Regions from separate parts of the Homo sapiens genome. Here region 1 is linked to region 2. A link means that fine-mapping ties the variant in region 2 to the expression of a gene that starts in the linked region. Tissue or cell type: whole blood. Region 2 holds a variant in brackets; the other region holds the start of a gene. All regions are shown on one strand. Distances are between the middles of the regions.

Region 1 (2,915 bases), 36 kb after region 2:
GGACATTCTTGCTGTAATGGCTATATATATATATGTAATTATTATTATACACATACACACTCACGTTTTTCTTTTGAGTCAGGGTCTCGCCCTGTCATTCAGGCTAGAGTGCAGTGGTGCCATCACTGCTCACTGCAGCCTCAACCTCCTAGGTTCGAGTGATCTTCCCCACCTCAACCTCCAAAGTAGCTGGGGCCACAGGCACATGCCAACATGCCTAGCTAATTTTTTTTATTTCTTATTTTTGTAAAGATGGGGTCTTGTCACGTTGCTCATGTGGGTCTCAGACTCCTGGGCTCAAGCGATCCTCCTGTCTCAGCCTCCCAAAGTGCTGAAAACTACAGGCGTGAACCACTAAACCTGGCCTGTTATATATTAATTTTAATTTAAAATACCCATGAAAAGGGGAGTAGGTTATTTTCAGTACTTAAGGTCCGAATATCGTGGGCTGCTGGGCTGGGGCTCACGACCCATCCGCAAATAACACAGAGGCAGACACAGAGAAAATCAGACATTGAGGCTTTCCTCACCTGCCTCTGTCTCCCTCCATCTCTGCAACTCTGCAATGCCCCAAGCAGGAGTCTGCTTTTTTGTATAATGGGCAACCCAATCTTGGCAGGAAACCAAAAGTCAATTTCCAGGAAAGGCAGAAAAGAGGGCTATAAAAACTAGAGGACCTCTGTGGCCTTGTGGTCACCTCTCCTCTCTTGCAAAGACACAGCTGTCACCAGAACCCCACGTCTCCACCAGCACAATGCCTCTCAAGATGCTGTAAGCGCCTAGGGAAAGCCAGCCTGCTAAAGGACGCACATGTGCGCACACACACAAACTTCAGGATGGCCATCAATTCAGTTCCTCCTTTACCAAACACTGTGACATGCCTTTCCCCTCTTCTCTCTCTCTCTCTAACCAGCCTTTCTCCCCCACCTCTCCCCCTTCACAACGCCCAGTTTTATTAGTATTATTATTCTCTTAAGTGGCACATGTAGTACCACTTCCTGCTCCATGAGGCCCCGCCGAAAGCGACGGAAGCGCGCCCTCCTCGCCGTGACATCTGTCTTGGCGGCAGCCTCCTCAGGCGGTTCTCTTGGCAGCCTCCACGCTGCCACCAGGCCTGTCGGGTGGCTGTACGGCTGACGGGCTGTCACCGCCGCCTCCTCTTGCGGGCTGCCATTTTCTTTTGATTTACCTTTGATTCGGAGGCATTTGCATGCTTTCATCACTTGGTGGACAAAGTCCTCGGCAAGTCTCCCATGGCTGCTTTCTGTGTAGGCAGCCAGGAAAGGGGCGGATCCCTCTGTGACTTTGCTTTGAGGTGTAAATGGAGGCCCGGCTGGCCTATGTCACGGGGAGCCCGGAAGCGGGTGTAGACTGTCACTTCCCAGCTCCCCGGGAGACGCTATGTAGTTGCTCCTCGCTTTGGCTAGGGAGCTGCTTCGCCAGTGACAAGTGTCCCCCGTGTCAATTAGTTTATTAATCACCCAGCTAGACAACTTGGTAATGTGGTAATTTCAGGGTTAGGCTGCACCGAGTTCTTCCTTTTCTGGCTGGGCATAAGAGCTCGTTAAAGGACTTCCCCTGCTCTCCAGAAAACTCTTTCTCTGCCTTTGTGCATATCCCAGTGAAGCCATTCAAAACTGCAACTCCTCTTCCCCGGCGTGCGGACAGGAGGGAGGACAGGGTTAAATTGCTAATCGAGGTTTCGTGAGGTCTGCCAGAGCCGAGTCTCCAACACTTACATCTGTTCAACAATTATTACAGCATTTTTGTCATAAAAAATTCAACACCCTGAGTGTCGTGCTAGCAAAACCTGAAAATTTATGCAGTGAATAGAATAGCTAATTTCTCTGAGGAAATGCAGGAGGAAAATTACAGATTTTACTTAAATTCCAAACACCAGAGTGCACACATCTGACGCCCTCTTTGGATTTTTTGTCAACCACCGGACCGAAGACGCCTTCCCGTCCACCAGGAAGCGGGGAAGACCCTGGACACATGCTCTGACCTTGGAAGAAGCCGTACTGTGAAACTCCAGACTGATCTATGCACCCACCCAGAGTGTCTCTAAAAGACCTCTCTCCCAATTAAATCCATGCGTGGTACAGAGTCAGACTTCGATTCCGGAGCGAGGTTAGCGTGATTGGTTTGCGTTTTTCCCACTCCCTTCTTCCAATTTGCCCCCCACGCCTTTAAAACAGCTCCTTGGAGAAAACAGAGGGGATGGAGAAGAGCCCCGACAGCATCGAGAGTCTTAAATCTCCTTAATTCATTCTAATGCTGTTTGATGCTTGCAACGGCAGCATTGGAGTTTGCCTCTCTGCTCCATAAAGGTCTGGAATATGGATTTTATGCTAAAACTAAAGCTGTCTAGTTAGGATGCCAGCAGAGTGGAACAATATGCTACAGGCGATCCTCAACTATTCTCCAGGGCCGGAGCCTGACTTCCCGACTGGGTGTTTGTTACCTTAATCATCATTGCAGCGGGATGAACAGGAATTTCTTGCACTGCCACCACAGTGGCACAATTAACGTTATCCGAATTTTCAGAGATTCTACTGCAGAGAGAGGATACTTGCTCCCCTCTGTTAGTGACTGCTCCAGGGTCCCTGTTTATTTTCCCTAGAATGAGGTGGTCAAAGGAACCAGCTGCCCTCTGCCCACTTACTCTGTCTCATGACAGCTCAGCATGGTAAATATTTTCTCTGTAGGGTCTCACATCTCCTGACCATCTCACCTCAGGGCTGGGGAGCACAGCCACACGCCAAGAGCAGAATCCATCACTGGCATTTATGTCTTAATAAAAGCGTGTGCCATTTTCAGATAAAGTAAACACTGCAGCCATTTCCTCTTGCCAGTAGAGGTTTTTCTCTCTTTCCTTCTGAGTCATACCCTTCTAGAAGGTGCAATGTGCCTTC
Region 2 (2,915 bases):
TCTTTATACGTAGGACACAATACACACACACACACACACACACACCCCTCACTCTCTCACTTCTGTCATTTAAAGTATGAAGAAACTAGTGAAGAAAAATCTATTTTCAGCTGTTCCATGTTAGAAAGCTTTTGCCACCATGATGAAAGAAGTGGATTTTGAAGAAAGTCAAGGCACTGATGAAGATGAAGGAATATTCTGACCAGCAGCCATCTGTTCTGTTAATTAAATCCTGTGCACATCAAGTAGTATGCTCTTACGTAACTAATAATTAAGAACTAAAGAGAGGTATGTATGCAGCATCCACTATGAATACTTTTATATATTGAAAAAATAAAAATAAAGACCCAGCCTTACTCTGGTCCATAGTCTAGCGATGATTAAACAGGCATTGATCAGGGCCTTCAAATACAAAACAGGACTCAGGTCTCAGAGAACAAAGGTTTCTATCTGACGCCTTTTCTTCTAATGGTCCTTGTGCAGTAAAAATAAAGTCCAAACACTATAATTTTACTCGCAGAAAAGTTACAAATACTGTAGGTATCTTTAGAAACAGCTGCAAAAGTGGTTTCCCTTCTGACAAGATTGGTGTTAATTACCAGCAAGGACTTCAGTATAATACTATTTAAATCATTTTAAATTATCCCTCTCAAAAATTAATTTTTCATCAAAGATTACACACAAAAAATCATGATATCATCTCTGCAGCTGCGATTTAGTAATAATTTCATCTATTATTACCAATGTCAGTTGGATAAAAGAAAAAATGGCACCCCACCGTGCCGATTCCAGCACAGGCCATATATAGAAATTTTTAACTATCACTTATAATCGCTTTGATGAGCTTAAACCTCCTCTCAATTAACACCCTAAATGACACTGAGACATCTTAATGGGGGATGTAAGTAAGGGAAAAGACTTTAATCAAAGAATAAAGAGAAAAGTGCCAAGAGATAGGAGGGCTTGCCGCACACCTCTTCGTGTCCAATCCCATTGAAGTCCTTTATCACGTTTGGAACCTTTTGTCATTCCAGGATCCAGGGGAAATCTACACGGCGGGGGTAGAAAGACAAGTGGCAGTGGCAAGTTGCTCTATTATCTTTGGAGATATAAAGACTTTTTCAAGGGCCCCCTGGCAGGACATCCAGACAAGAGGATGGGAACTCTGGAATGCTGTCACTTGAACAAGTGCAATAAAGCAGAGAAGCAAAAGGGAAGATATTGTTCTCTTAAGACCATCTTCTGGGCTGTGCCAGGGTAGCAGTTGTGGGGATCCAAGCCACTCACATGTAGGCACCCCAACTCACTCTCAGCAGGGCCAGAGAACAAAATGGGTCCCACTAGGCACATTCGAGTTATGCAAACTCAC[A/G]CAGCTGTGGGGATGTTACAGAAGGACATTTCTCAGGCCATTATTTTTTATCGTGAACTGCTGTTCCTGGGCTTTGGGAGAATTGGGAATAAAATGAAATAAAACAAAATCCAAATGAAAACTGACCAGCATGCTTTACTCTTTTTAAATCGTGTCCATGGTGTCCATGGTGATTTTTGCTTCCAATTAAGACGTCTAATGAACATGTGTTAGTGCCCATGCTCTACTCCCAAGAAACAAACTGGGCAATTAATGGCACTGCAGGAGCCCCGATTTCTTCAGCCATATACACATATTTGGTTGAAAAGGCAAGTTTGTAAATTGTATTTGCAAAATTGAATGAAATAAACTGGATTTTCAGATCTGACTTACCCCTTTATACCTCTAAGCTACTTCAGCCTCCAAAGATGAGAAGAGTGTCCTACTGCTGCATACCTTGTGCCAAGGTCTGGGAAAGAGGATGACACATAAGCTACATTTTTACTGTCAAAAAGGATACTTTTCTGGGTTGTGACAAAGAGGGCTAACATCTGTACAGTACCTAGGGCTGTCATCCAGTGGGAGCCAGGCTCTATATCAAAGTTCCATGAATAACCTATCATGGCTGGCCTCATTATCCAGGATTTGGAGATGAGAAACCAAGGATTGGAGAAATGTCCAGAAAGTGGCACAGGCATAGAATAGAGAAGCCAGGATGTAAAACCAGGCTTTGTGATGGTGGACAAACCAGAGAGAACCTAGATCAAGAGCTTTCTCCAGAATAAAAAGGTTTTGGCTGTCTTCACCTTTTGCTAGTTGCCCAGACATTATTCCTAACCCCATTCCCTCCTCTCACCACAGGAAACTTGATGGTATTACGTTATATTATGTAGAATTTTAACTGTATTTTTTATGTTGTAGATTATCTTTTTACTTCCTTCTTTTTGGATATTACTTTAAACACACACAGACATGTGTGTGCATGGGTAAAACTTAGTGCAATAAATTTTACCAATCTATGTGCTCATCCTTAATATCCATATTTTTCAAAACATCCTCCTTCAGGTGCCCTTCTCTCAAGGATGTTTTCAGAGAGGGCATGATGGGGTAGTAAACTTTCTGAGTCTTTACTCACTTAAAAATATCATTATATTGCCTGTGTGTTGAGAGATAGTTTAGCTTGGTATAAGATTACAACTTAAAAGTGAGTTTAATTTAACACTTTGAAAATAATTCTCTATTCAATGTTGCTATTAAGAAATAAGATTTTAATCTAAATATTATTTCTGTATGGGTGATCTGTATGTTCTCTTGGATAGCTTGTCACTTTTTTCTTTTCCTTTGATGTACTTAAATATAATTATGTTGTCTAAGTGATTTTTTACTTATAGATTCTATTAGGCATTCCATAAGAACTGTGGCTATGAATCTCTTTTTATTCATTTATTCTATTATTATTTGCTTTTCAAATACTTCCTCTCCTTATTTTTTCTCTCCTTCTATGACTGCCTATTTTATTTATATCAACAGATGTGCCTCTAGCCTCTATTTATTTTAACTTTTTTGC

The links.
Region 1: it holds the start of LINC02325, and the variant in region 2 is fine-mapped to the expression of LINC02325 in whole blood (INTERVAL, PIP above 0.99).

Annotation. Positions count from the first base shown.
Region 1 is chr14:97,457,202-97,460,116 of GRCh38, reverse strand. It overlaps LINC02325 (long intergenic non-protein coding RNA 2325), which reads right to left and starts at 1,301. Exons shown (of 5, transcript NR_110166.1): 1 at 1,190-1,301.
Region 2 is chr14:97,493,281-97,496,195 of GRCh38, reverse strand. The region is part of intron 1 of LINC02325 (long intergenic non-protein coding RNA 2325); the gene reads right to left. Among named protein-coding and RNA genes, the nearest start is that of LINC02325, 36 kb to the right of the region's middle. The variant A/G (reference allele first, on the strand shown) is at 1,370.